2 linked regions of the Homo sapiens genome follow. The protein of the gene in region 1 interacts with the protein of each later gene in a pairwise test. Each region holds a gene or a part of one and is shown on either strand. Other genes may lie near its edges.

Region 1 (7,078 bases):
AAGTTATCAGGACAACATAAGCTCTACAAAAAAGTGAGATGCTATTAAGATTTTTCTGCTTATTGATTATAACAGTAAATGATATAAAATACTTTGTTTCACATGTAGAGATGATGCTCAGATTGAATTTAATGCTTCAGGTATCCATGGAAGGACAGCCAACCACTCTAGAAGTTATCTAAAGGGAAAAGTATCTATTCCTGTGGGATTCTTTTGATTTCACTCCTAGTCAAGTCTCTTATTTAGAAGCTTTAGTATCCGATAGAATGAGGACAACATAAAAACTTTTAAAAATTATCAGGCTGGGCATATCAATATTTATTGAAATACTGAAAAAAAAAATTCCATTTTGTTGAGAAGTTCCTGGCAAGAACTGACATGACAATATGTATTTCATTGATACAGTAAGAAAACATCAACAAGTAACTGACTTCACACTCTAAACATTGCATGGATTCAAGTCCAAGGCAGCTGCAGATCTGTGATACAAATAATCAGACATTAGAGATTGTCTGTTTACAAACATAGAGCAACTATAATAAACCAAGTTAAGCCAAAAACCTTTATATTTGAGTCTGCTTTTACCGGCAAATCCTGTAATTGATAAGGCAGTTGCTAAGTAAATGCCAGGTTACAAATCGGCTAACAATCAACATTAGAGAAACTTCACTTGTCAACCTTGGGTGAACAGACGCTGGCTGTGACGCTTTCTTGCTTATCAGCTCCTGTCGTTGGTGTGATCAGCAGTGTGGATGTAACCCGCTGTGTTGCCCGTCTTTCTAATCATTCTCATGATTTAATCTACCAGGTTAACAACATACCAATATGTGACATTTTTTAGGTTTAATTTTCAGTGGGGAGCACTGTATCTTTAAAATAAGAGAACATAGATTTTAAGAGTCAACGTAGCCAGGTATGCTGGCATGCACCCCTAGTCCCAGCTATGGGGGAGGCTGAGGCAGGAGGAATGCTTGAGCCCAGGAGTTCAAGGCCAGCCTGGGCAACATGTGAGATCAAGATCCCGCCTCTTAAAATAAAAAATAAAATAAAATAAAAATCAACATATTTGTTTTTTTGGCAATGTTAAAGACCCTCCAAATAGTTATAGTCAAATCTTATAATTGTCTCCATCCACATTACACATGCATGATAGAACCGTTTCATTAACTGTTGACCACACCATTCCTCTCCATGTATCTTCTAGCCAACTTGTTTTTCAGCTGGGGAGGGCAATGATGCTGCTGTTCTCTGTAATGCTTTGGGTATGAGCTCTGATCGGCGATTTTGCATTGTCCTTTGAGCCACGAAGATAACACGGGTGACTGAGACTGCGCATGAGTCAACGCCCAGCTTACCTAATGTGTACCCTTCATGTGGATGAGTATTAGAGGTGATTAATAAACATAATAAAATAATCCTCTTTGTACACACAGAAGTAATAACTAATATCTTTGGTATACAATTTACAATGCTTGGAAAGGAAAACCAGGTAAGACTCCACCTTGTTGAGTTTACTTGAAAACCAGAGGAAGCTACAAGTCACATAATTTACAATAGATATTAAATAAACTACAGTAGGAATGATGAAGATTTACAGACATTTAATCAAGTGAATGATTTTAATTCATTAAGACTCTTCTATGTCCCTGAACTAAGTTCCACTAATTTGAAGACATGCTACAGTAAACACATATATTTGGTTTCTTCAGTCTTGGCTATATCTTATACAAAGGTGAAACCAAGAAACAATAAATTAGCATCATAATTGTCTACAGTTGAAAGTATGATATACAATATAAATACACTACTCAAAAGCCAGAAATATTTATGAAAAAATTAAGGGACTAGGAGATACTTTTATTTTTTACAGTTTCTACAAAGTGATTGTGCCGCCGATAATCTCAAAAAAATTAAAGTCTAAATGAGATTCCCGTTTTTGATTTTAGTGTCTCACGACATAGAATAATTAAGTACTGTTAAAAATAATTACCAATCAGAAAAATAACATTAAGGAAATTACCGCTTTTGCTATTTTGTTATATCACAGATCCCCCTGCCCCTCAGGACCTAAAGAATGTAAACACTATATCTTATTTGACTTTAAAGTATTAATACTTTATTTTAAACAAATGTTGATCCACATCTGCACAGCTACCTTTTAAAATTGTGAAATAAGGCAAGACTTTCATACCTGTGGCATCGCATGTTAATAATACTGATAATAGTCATTTGAAGAATTTGCGATTCTTTGTCCTCCCATATTTGTTCTACAGCAGACTTTGGTCTATGACTTAAAAAGGTCAGTATCACTCTCTTCCTTTCCCCTTTGGGGAAGATTTGAATTACTTTAATATCTTTCCAGGACACATGTAAAAATCACCATTTCCATCCCAACTCTTGAGGATGTTCAATTGCAGCAAGAATGAACCTTGAGTCAATACATCACCTCATCCTTTCCTTTCTCTTTGCATAGATTAACATGCGTCAATTTTGTTTCCAACTACTTAGAACTGTGACTATTTGACATCCTAGCAAAATGTGTTTAATGTTGTATTTTTAAATGAACTACAAACTTGGATGATGAAAAAGACTGATGTATACTAACAAGACTTCCTGCCAGAAATTTTTTATGAAATCCAACAATGCCAAAGCCACATTTCAGCAACAGTAGCAGAAATAAGGTCTAAGTTGCTTTAGCTATGGAGCATTTGCTTTGAAAGTTTGTAGTCATTTCCCTTAATATTAATTAACACTTACATAAGATGAGGGATACTGCCTGCATTTTCTTAACATCATGAACACGAGACAAAACAACCCTCAGAACATATTTAAAATGGCAAGCTAACATATTAATAGAATTTCCTATTAGCTGTTTGCAGGTCTAAGACACAGACACTCAAAATTAGGCTGTTCATGATTTGGTGGAGCTACCACTGGGTGTGGCTGAACACAGGTCCTTAGTACAGATTCGGTGACCACAGGGCAGAGGTGCTGGGGCCTTCAAAGGAAGAGGGAGGGGCTATTGTAGGTACAGCTGATGCATTCTTGAGAATTGTTTCAGTTCAGCTTTACCATGGAGGAATCCTGTAAGCTCAAATCCCCCGCTGTATAAGCCTAATTAATAAGATTAGTTCCTAAATTTCTTCATAGTGGAGATCAGTTTAAATATACAAGAACCGTTCTGTCCGTTTTTCTTCTGACCGTGTTGGTATCCATCTGTGAGTTCAATCCACTCCATTACAATGTCTTTTATATGGAATCCTCTGGGGCTGTGAAGCCTTTGATTCACAGTTTGCAATACAAATACCCTGATACATCATTTATTTGCTATTAAGTATTTGATTATTATGCCTTTTTAAATTCAATATCTTTAAAGCAAGTTTTTAATTAGCGTTACTTGGAGCAGTTCAGAGTACTTTTTTTCTTCCTGTTCTTCTTCCCCCTCCCCACTCCCCCAATCTCTTTTTGTTTTGAAAGCAGAGCTCCTAGGGGTTGTAACTTATGCTCTTTTGGCATGCAACATTTCAATGAGAAGGTTATTATAGGGCACATCCCCGTTCAGGTGCTTGTAGTAGAGGTATTCTTCAGCCTGCATACTGATGGCCCGGATTTCGGGTAGTCGAAGAAGTAGCTGTCCAAATTTCTCTGTCTGCTGCGGGTAGTTACACATTGTGTAGTCCAGCAGGGCGGCATTGACTTGTTCCTGGACACCTTCTACCAGCTGGAAGTTTTCAAGGTTTTTGACATCTGCATTAAAAAAAAAAAAAAAAAAAGCAACATTTCAATAGCATTTCAATTCCTGTTTACTAAAGCAATGTGTTCAATTAATGGATGTATTTTCCTTTTGACATAAACATACTTTACATGCTGCTGAATATTCAGTAAACCCCACTCACCAAACTTCCTGGGAAAAGGATCACAAAAGAGCTTTAGAAGAATGTCTTGTTGAAATTCTGCATATACCTCAAATCAATTAGACACCAGTGGATTTTGAGCAAGGTCAACTCTTTTCATATCTTACAAAAGGAAAGGATTGAGGATTCCTAAAGTAGAGGGATCTTAATATATTGCCAGCAAATGAGTCCCTGGAGAAAGACCTATCTTAACCCAGTATATTACACAATTCATATAATTCTGTATTAATTTTTCTGACCCAAGGTGAAATCTGTGTCCAGGGTATGATGTAGTTAATTCTAATAAAAAGTGACAGGATTCTTGTTTCTGTTTGACATTTTCTAAATGATTCTGAAAGTCTTTGACTTGTCTAGCCTATGCTAATGAACCATCTGGTACACTCCAGTGACTGCCAACAGAATATTCGCTACTGGGAACTCTCTAAAATATATATCTTGGTGACTAATGATCTTTATCAAATGAGAGCCTTGTCCTTTAGGCAGAACACAAGCCAGGATGGTCAGTGCCCTTTAACCTGCATGTAGTTTCTAAAGTCTGATACTCTGTGTTTCTTTTTTTTCTTCTGGTCACTCATGTAGAGAAGATGAGCAAAGGCATTTCATTCCGCCTAACTCCTGATGACTATGCAGTTGTTTTTAGACATCTGCCCTAAAGGTCCTTATAAATACTGAATAAGAGAGAAAGCCAGAATAAAAAAAGACAGACTGACATACAAACACACACACAGACAATAGGCAAGGGAAAACGGTATGCTGGAATTTCTCTTCTGGGGTTGATTTATGTTAACAGTATGACTTTTATATGATGTGTACATAGAAGCCTCTGGAAAAAATAGACAGATACGTGTGTGTGTTTACATACACCCATGCTCAGAAAGTAAACAGATGCAGCCACCCTGCCCTGCTTTATTTTCTAATTGGACAAAAATAAATAAGAAAGAGAATATGGAGAAAACCACACAGTACTATGACTAAAAGGATAAAGATACTAAACTCGGTTCAAGTAATTCATACCCACTATATACTGTTTTGGGCATTATATACTGTTGAACTTAACCTACATATGTGTACATGTCCATCTTGTTATTTCTAAATGGCTTTACACTGGGCTGTCATACATTCGCTGTTGAAGTGTGTTCAGGACGATTTCAGTGTTTACATTTGGGCCATAGCTTTGCATTAAACATGCTTCCCCTTTCCATCCCCAAGTCTCTGACCCAAATTAAAAACAGTGAGGAATTAGTACTGAAATAGTTATGTAGTGAGTTGGTACCATATCTCTTTCAAAGTGAGATGGCAGACTCAAACATAGTTGATTATTCATTGATGAGTTGTACAAACATAAATACTACACAATAAGGAGCTCTGAGTCTTCCGGTGGCATTTAAATTGGCAACCACATTGGTGTGCTCTGGACATTTTACCCATGCGGCACTTTACAGTTAGTAAAGCATATTCCACCTGTCTTATTTAATATATTTTAAAAATGATTTTAAGTTACTTAAAAATATTTATAAGTATGGCTATGTATCCAGAGTCATACTTGGTTCAAAATTGCAAAATATAAACAATCAGAAATACCTTCAATATGTCCTACCTTGGTACATGATAGAAAAATCTACATTTGTTTTGCATTATAGTGATTAAAACATGACTATTAAAAATTTGAAATGCAGTATTATTTTACGCTACAGTGAAAAATACTCTCACCAGCAAGCAAAGCTAGTAACAGTCAGAGATTAATAGAGAGGATGTAGAAATTTGCATAGAATGAATGTAAAATGTAAGAAAAATGAAGAATACCCTTTTTAGAAAGTTGTTTGAAACTTTCCTTTTTTGATAATTGTATTTTTTTGAGAACCAGTTTTAACATTCTGTGATAAACTATGCTGCTCTGTTAAGGAAAAACAAAAAGAAAGAAAACTACCAACAAACATAAAACAAAGGCTAGATCATAAGTTTTGGTTTATCCACTTACTATTATAGAATGATAATTTAGAGTCTTCAGCTCAGCATTCAATGGTTAACTTCTTTCTTTTTTTTATTTTGAGACAGAGTCTTGCTCTGTTGCCAGGCTGTAGTGCAGTGGTGCGATCTCGGCTCACTGCAACCTCCACCTCCTGAGTTCAAGCAATCCTCCTGCCTCAGCCACCTGAGTAGCTGGGGTTACAGACTTGTGTCACCACACCCAGCTAATTTTTATATTTTTAGTAGAGATGGGGTTTCACCATGTTGACTAGGGTGGTCTCAAATTCCTGACTTCCAGTGATCCACCCACCTTGGCCTCCCAAAGTGCTGGGATTACAGGCGTGAGCTACTGCGTCCAGCCTCGATGGTTAATTTCTATGAATACTGGTCCAAACTGACACCCTTTTCCCCCAAAACTTGGGAAATATGTGCAATTTTCCTTCTGGCAGGAAAATATATAGGTGTCTCATATTTTGGCTAAATATACTATTTTTTGCTAAAGCTGATCAGAATTGAATCCACATGCCTGAGTTAATTATCCCATTAAGCTATTTTGATGAATGTTATCATGAAATAATAAAACATATGCTGCTAATTGTCCCAAAGATTCTTACTTGCCGAATGTCTATTTTGTTTCTACATCTATACACATGGCAATGATCCTGAAGAAGTTCTGAGTGAATTCCTCTCATTTACTGACCATGCCATTCCAGGATCATTGCTCTGCTGCCTGCCTTGATGCTGGCTTCTGTCTATTTAACTGTCTGTTTCCCTATGCAGACCGTAAGCTCCTGGGGATAAGGGATATGCTTTAGTTCAGCCATCCCCAGGGAATACACCGGTAACTCCTTGCTTCACATTATTGGTGCATTTGTCCAAGATTGATACAATTGTGAATTTGACCTGTTAAATTATTTCACAAGCCAATTTCCTTCCTTTTTCTAACTAGAAACTGATTTTCAAAAATTTGGCATATATGTAATGGATCTCTCCCTGAAATAAAATACTGTACTTTACATGTAATAGTCTTTTCTATTCAAAAAGTCCTGTGATGAATCCTTTTGTGATCTGAATAATCAAGTTCTAATTTACATGTTTTGCAAATGAGGATTTTCACTGGTCAGTTTTGTGTTAAGGGAAACGTGCTTATGTTCTCATTTGGACTGGAATCAGTCCCTGGGATGCTGCGGACTGGA
Region 2 (7,592 bases), on another chromosome or scaffold:
ACAAAGACAAGAACACAAAAGTAAATATAGTTTCTAGATAAAAATCAGTTATGAACCTCATATCACATATCTAGTTTTGTTGTGTTTAAGTTTGCCCACAGCCATAGAAAAGAACAAAATTATGTTCTTTGTGACAACACGTATGTAGCTGGGGGCCATTACCCTAGACGAATTAATGCAGAAACAGAAAACCAAATATCGCAAGTTCTCACTTACAAGTGAATTTGGGAGCTAAACACTGGGTACAACATGGATATAGTGGGGAACAACAACAGACACTAGGCACTACTAGAAGGGGGGTTGAGAGAGAGATGGGGACCTACTGGGTACTATGCTCACTACCTGGAATGGGATCATTCATACTCCAAACCTCAGCATCACGAAATATACCCATGTAGCAAACCTGCACAAGTACCTCCTTGATCTAAAATAAAAGCTGAAAATTACAAAAACTTTAATTGGGCATGGTGGCTCACGCCTGTAATCCCAGCACTTTGGGAGGTCAAGGCAAGCAGATCGCTCAAGCTCAAGGAGTTCGAGACCAGCCTGGGCAACATAGCGAAACCCCATGTCTACTACAAATATAAAAATCAGCCCGGCGTGGTAACACGCGCCTCGGGAGGCTGGCTGAGGCGGGATCCCTTCAGCCTGGGAAGGGGAGGATGCAGTGAGCAGAGATCGATCGTGCCACTGCATTCCAGCCTGGAGTGCGATAGAGGCAGACTCTGTCTCAAGAAAAAAAAAACAACAAAAAACTTAAATTTCCCTTGACTTTTAAGTTCACTCTTGTTCGCCACTAAAAATGCAGTTAATCACCACTGCTAGTTACCAGTATGCAACGTGAACCAGTTCTAAAATGTCAAACTAAAAAAAGTCTGAAATAACCCAAGTCCACCTTTCTACAACTGTAAGGAAGACTAATGAGCTCTCTTCCAAATACGAGTGCCAGAAACAATCTTTGCTGTGTACCTCCTTTCTGGTTTAGTAACTGCTTCAAGAACGCTGCTTCACTCACCTTAATCTTTCCCAACTTAAGTGGGCCTTATAGGAAGTCTTGAAAGGATGGAAAAGCGTAAGGTAATCCACTAGATCACTGCACTACCAACACTTGTAACGCGGTAGTAAGCAAGACACGACACGAAAGAGGACCACAACTTTCCACGTCAATAAGGTTCACTGCCAGAGCTCCCTAGTTAGTACCTGTTCTAGAAAACAGGCCAGGAAACAAGCACAAAAGCTTTTAGGTAATCACGGATATTTCAAAAGTCGTGGAATTTTAAAAGGGAGACATTGAGACGATAATTTAAAGAAACAAGGTGGGCAAATTTTTTCCCAAGGGCACAGATAAACCGCAAATCTCTAATTCAATGCAACATTCTTCACTAAATAACGGGAACTTTTTCATTTCATTATTACGAAGATTAAGTCATTGAACTTAAGTCCATAAAACGTTATTCTGACAAGACTTTGAAATCATTTCGTAGACTTAATCCTATTTAAACTTCTATCCATTTTATCCTAATGCAATAGCACTGCAATCAGACGGGCTAAGTCAATTCAATTGCTAACTCTTCTGAAAACTTACTCTGGACACACTAACACGAAGTACCACAGTGGCAAAAGTAATAAAATCAGTTTTGTGCGGCTCCTGCCAACTCTTAACTTGGAACCACTAAGTAGGTCAGGCCCGAGGCGGGCAGAGCCCCAACTGGACTGCGCGTCCCACACCGGGCACCTCACATTTTGGCACAACTCCAACCAAACGAAACCCAGCCGCTCGGAGCCCACTCCACCCCCTACGGCGGGACGTTAGAGGCCGTCTCCGCGTTTCACCGACTAGGACTGGGGCTCCCGATAGCCGGGAGGCCGAAAGCCGGGCCCAGTCCTTCCCCAGCTGCCCCCACCCGGCCTCGCCTCCTTCATGGGCGCCGGAGCGCCGGGCACGTAGCGCGCGCTGACGTCAGCCCTCCCGCGGGCCCTGTCCCTGCCCCCACCCCGCCGCGCGCCCGGAACGCCGAAACCCCCTGGAACGCCGCCAGCCTTCTAAATCGGGGCTGTTGCTGGGGCGCAGCGGCGCTTCTCATTGGCCGACTCCTGGGAGCCAATCAGAAGCGCCAGCGCATGCCTCCCCTTCCCCCTTCTTCCCCCAAAGCAAGAATGGAGCGGGCGTCACGGAAACTTCCCTCCCGAGTAAACAGCCGCCCCCCCCACCCCGCCCCCACCCGCCCGACCCCCCGGGTGCAGGGTCTGCAGCCCCAGAGCTCGGCCGCGACCGTCTAAGGGCCCGACTCCCCAACGGCCCCCTGGCGGCCTCACCTCTTTCCTGAGGGGGGTTTGGCCGGGAGCCGCGGGCCGCAGCGGGGCAAGGTCGGGGCTGGCTCCCTCCGTGCCGGCTGCGGCTGCAGGACTCGGGGCCAAGGCGGCGGCCGGGCCCGGGACCTCCTGCGCTCCGCTCGGGCCGGTCGCGGGGCTCCGGCCGCCCTCCAGACTCGGCCGGTGCTGCTGGTACTGGTGGAAGCGGCTGGGCAGCTGCCCTGCGGGGCTGGCCCGCACCTTCTTCTTTCGCCGCTTCTTCGGCGCTGCCCGAGGAGTGCCTCCCGCCACGGCGAGGCTGCGGTTGGGCAGAGCTGCTGGAGCGCGAGGCTGGGGGGTCAGACACGGGCCATCTCCCCCTAGGAAATGAGGGAGGAAGAGGGTCGGGGGCAGTGCCCGGGGGTCCGGGATCCGGGGTAAAGGAGGCGGAGCCGTGGTCACCATCGGGAGGGCCCCAAAGTAACCTCGGGAGGAAAAGCCAAGCGGCGCAAGGCGGCCACCCAGGACGAGCGGCTCCCGCTGCGGGACGGAGACGACAGTCATAGCGCTAGGAAGCTTGTCGCTCAGCAACGAAGAGAGAAGGAGAAGGTGAATGAAGCCAGTGAAGATAGGGTGGCGGCGATGGATGCTGCTAGGAGAGCCTGAGAAGATCGCGGAACATGACTCGGGCGGTGGCGGCGCAGCAACAAATAGCCACAGCCCCAGCTCCGAGTGTTGTTATCGGAAGCTCCGCCCCGCGCCCGCCCACTTTCCTGCGAAAGCCCAATTAGAGTGCGACAAGGCAGGCCACGCCCCCTCGCTCCGCCTCCGCAGCTTCGGGTAGACACACACAAACAACCAGCTTGCTGCAGCCTGGCACAAAGAGGGCGCACTGCGCAGGCGCTGCCAGCGAGCTCTTTTGGGAAGAATCGGTCCCGCGAACAATGAAATTGGGTTTCCGCCCCACCCTCTTTACTCCTCCCCAGCACGCCCCTGCGCTTCGCCGGGCTAGGGAGTGGTGGTACTGAAATGTCCCGGCGGAGTTTGTTGATGGGGGTGGGGAAGGGAGGGGGCAGGGGGAGGGCGGCAGGAAGAACGGGGGCTGGGAAGAGGGGATGACTTTGGCAAGGCCACGGTTGCCTCCTCCGCTGCTGACCTTGGGGAAGTATCCGTTTTATTTTCAGCCCAACATAACAGCGTTATCATTTTAAAACAAAGATTTCTAAGTACGCTGTAAGGATTTCTTCCCTAGCAATCGTGAAGAAAATCAGTCTACATTTAAATTTTATCTACTGAAGTATGGCTCACGATTCTTTCATTTACTTGGTTCGGCATCGCTGCTTATTAGTCTCGGTGATCAGAGTAAAAATCAAAGTGACTTACTGATTGAATTAGCCCCTCGATGTATAAAAAGTTCTCCGTAAATCCATAAATGGAAGTTGGAGTTTTTACTGATTTCATACTTGAAGGATTGTGAGACTTTGGGATCAGAACATTGTGCCTGGTTACTTGAGGAGGCGGCAAGCCGGCTTGCGTCTCAAAGGGAGAAAGTGAAACAGCTCTGCAACATAGAGTATTTTGTTAGCTGCGCGTAAATAGAAATTTTTCGCGATCTCCCCGCACTGCTCAACCACAAAAAAGAATTGTGGCCATAATTTATCAAGCATTTATGTTCCAGGAACTGTTCTTTACATAGATTGTCTCACTTTAACCTCACAACAACCCTTACGAATAGGTACTAAGAAAAATAGATCAGACCTCAGCTCTGCGAAGTAGGCAGGCTGTCATTCTCTTCCTTTCACTACTAATGCCTGGGGCAATTGTTTAAAGGCATTTTGTTCCTGATTAGCTGCCTACGCATTATCTTTAAGTTTCTGAAATTTAAGATACAAAGAACAATGTATAGCTAGTCAAGAGCCCACGATATTTTAATGTAAATTGGTAAACAATTTAGGAGCTGCCTCTTTTCCTTTAAAAACCTACTTGTAACTTGCTAATCCGAGTGTATATTCAGGGCAGCTTGAATCTATGGTCCTGGGTTGCAGTCCTCAAGCTTGGCCTGATTTTGCCTCAGCTTCTTTTTGGAGGGACAGTACTGTATTTTATTCCCATTTTACAGCTGGGGAAACAGGCTTAGAAAGGCTAAAGGACTTGTCAAAGATCAAACGGTAAGTTAACATCAGAATTTGATCTCCAGTCCAGGTACTGCAAGACAAAAGTTTTAATTTTTTTTTTTTTTTTTTTGAGACGGCGTGTCACTCTGTGGCCAGGCTGCAGTGCAGTGGCGCCATCTCGGCTTACTGCAACCTCCGTCTCCCTGGTTCAAGAGATTCTCCTGCCTCAGCCTCCCTAGTAGCTGGGATTACAGGCACCCGCCACGCCCAGCTAATTTCTGTATTTTTTAGTAGAGACGGGGTTTCACCTTGTTGGCCAGGATGGTCTTGATCTCCTGACCTCGTGATCCGCCTGCCTCGGCCTTCCAAAGTGCTGGGATTACAGGCGTGAGCCACCGCGTCCAGCCCTGCCACACTAGATTCTACATTATTAGAAGACCACAGTAATCTTACACTTCTGTATCCTCACCGCCTCTACAATAGTTTTCAGCTTTGGAGTAGTAAGCAATTAGTAAGCAATGAAACGTTTTATGATTGATGGCAAAGTTGGACAGATTGCATATCCAGAAAAATGCTTCCCAATCACTTTATAAACTTTTTTTTTTTTTTAGACGGGGTTTCTTTCTGACACTCAGATTGGAGTGCAATGGCATGATCTCGGATTACAGCAACAGCCGCCTCCCAGGCTCAAGAGATCCTCCAACCCCAGCCCCCCACGCCCCTGAGTAGCTGGGACCACAGGCACACACCACCACTCCTGGCTAATTTTTTGTGTTTTTAGTGGAGACAGGGTTTCACCATGTTGCCCAGGCCGGTCTCAAACTCCTGAGCTCAAGCCATCTGCCTGTCTCAGCCTCCCAAAGTGATGGGATTACAGGAGTGAGCCACCAAACCCAGTCAACCTTATAAGCTTTTAAAACTACATTTCAGGCCAGGCGTGGTGGCTCACACCTGTAATCCTAGCACTTTGGGAGGCCGAGGCGGCTGGATTACCTAAGGTCAGGAGTTTGAGACCAGCCTGGCCAACATGGCGAAACCCTGTCTCTACTAAAAATATAAAAATTAGCTGGGCATACAGGCTAATGTGCCTGTAATCCCAGCTACTAGGGGGGCTGAGGCAGGAGGATCGTTTAAACCTGGGAGGTAGAGGTTGCAGTGAGCCGAGATCATGCCACTGCACTCCAGCCTGGGCAACAGAGCAATACTCCATCTCAAAAAACAAAAAAGAAACCAAAAAAACTCCATTTCATTCCAATTGCTGAATTTTACTCATTTTTGTTTCTGCAACATGTAATGCATAGTAAGTGCTCATGTTCATTGGATGGATGGGAATCATGGACATCCAGAGCTGTAAAAGAATCTACTTTTTCAAAGCACTTTCCATCTGTCATCTCATTTTATTCTTACTCTAGCACTTTAAGGTTGATATAGAGAGGTCCTATTTAACGTATGGTGTAAATAAATTTAAATATATAGTAACTTGCTTGGGGGGGGGGGTTCACAAAATGAGGTAGGAATAACTCGAACTCCTGATGCCTAGTCCAGTGTTCTTTTCACTATATCCCATGATTTTAGGCTTGACTTTATCTGGGGATAATATCATACTGTCCTAGAGAATAATTTACCCTTCAGGGAGCTGGTCATTGGTAGCCAGCTCTGTGGGGCCCTTGGTCAAAGATACCTATTATTGTCTATGTGTATTTCTTGGGTGATTGTTGGAGTAATTATGTGTATAACTTATCATTTTGAGGCCTTAAGTGTAGGCTTCATGTTTGCCCTGGGTTCTGTACTGTAAGAAAAGTAACCTTGCAGCTGTGACCACCTGGGTGATGGGTGCTGAGATTGCTAAAATGGTGCCCACCACTAAGAAACAGAATGGGAGCTGAAATGGGGCACTTAGAAGAGAGAGGTCGAGGTTTTATAAGCCAGATGATTGGATTTAATGTTACTCTGTGTGGGTAGTCTTTGTAAACCCTTAGTCTTTAGTAAAGTCTAATTTTAATGTTTAAACCTAAGCGTTACAGGTTTAAACATATAGTGTTAGCTGTGCTATATGATATAAAGGAAAAAGATCAGGCTGGGTGCAGTGGCTCACGGATGGCAAGGTGGATGGATCACTTGAGGTCAGGAGTTGGAGACCAGCCTGGCCAACATGATGAAACCCTGTCTCTACTAAAAATACAAAAATTAGCCAGTTGTGGTGGTGCATGCCTGTAGTCCCAGCTACTTGGGAGGCTGAGGCAGAAGAATCACTTGAACCTGGGAGGTAGAGGTTGCAGTGAGCCGAGATCACGCCACTGCACTCTAGCCTGGGCGACAGAGCAAGACTTCATCTCAGGGAAAAAAAAAAAAAAAAAAAAAATCAGATCCTTTTGCTTGGGCCCAAAAGGCCAAACTTGGAGGTAACAAGATATTCCAAGGGTAAAGGAAATTTTAGGAGAATTCTCAGAGTTCTTGAAGCTTTTTGCTCCAGTGTACATCTTGATTTTATTTTTGTTAAGCTAATCTTTAGAGGAGGTTAGAAGAAAAATAAAAGATTGGAAAGTAAACTAGGTATTAAATAGCAGAAAAAAGAGGTAATGCCCATTTATGAAATAAGCAGCTTACCCGCATTGACACTAAGCAGAACTCCAAATTCCACTTCTCTCTCTTCTATCTACCTTTGTCTCTCGTGTATTTTACCTCTGTCCTCTTTCTCTCCCTCTCTCTGTATGAAATGTCATTTTCTTTCCTCCTACCCTGAATGTCTTTTTTCCTCTTTATATAGACTTTATTACCATTTTTTCTACCTATTATTACTTAGATTTTTTTTTCTTTTTCTTTTTTGAGACAGGGCTTCACTCTGTCACCCAGGCTGGAGTGCAGTGGTGCGATAACAACTCACTGCAGCCTCCACCTCTGGCGTTCAGGAGATTCTCACACCTCATCCTCCCTAGCTGGCGCATGCCACCATGTCTGCTAATTTGTGTGTGTGCGTGTTTGATAGAGACAGGGTTTTGCCATGTTGCCCAAGCTGGTCTCGAACTCCTGAGTTCAAGTGATCCAACCACTTTGGCCTCCCAAAGTGCTGGGATTACAGGCATGAGCCACCTCACCCAGCCTATTGCTTAGATCTGTAATGTCTAAGGTGTGAGGGACACCTGTGTGAAAAGAGGAACACTTAATCAAACTTCTATTTTGCTTTTT

The links. Proteins that work in one complex are often made in the same cells at the same time.
Region 2: the proteins of NR5A2 (region 1) and PNRC1 interact in a two-hybrid assay, tested with the Homo sapiens proteins (one study listed by BioGRID).

The regions. Positions count from the first base shown.
Region 1 is NC_000001.11:200,170,632-200,177,709, reverse strand, and holds the end of NR5A2 (nuclear receptor subfamily 5 group A member 2), read right to left. Parts: intron 3,748-7,078; coding exon 3,500-3,747; 3' UTR 295-3,499; downstream 1-294. UniProt on the Homo sapiens protein: Orphan nuclear receptor that binds DNA as a monomer to the 5'-TCAAGGCCA-3' sequence and controls expression of target genes: regulates key biological processes, such as early embryonic development, cholesterol and bile acid synthesis pathways, as well as liver and pancreas morphogenesis.
Region 2 is NC_000006.12:89,076,159-89,083,750, reverse strand, and holds the start of PNRC1 (proline-rich nuclear receptor coactivator 1), read right to left. Parts: upstream 3,001-7,592; 5' UTR 2,857-3,000; coding exon 2,317-2,856; intron 1,201-2,316; coding exon of another isoform or gene 1,174-1,200; exon of another isoform or gene 1,016-1,173; intron 1-1,015. UniProt on the Homo sapiens protein: Nuclear receptor coactivator. May play a role in signal transduction.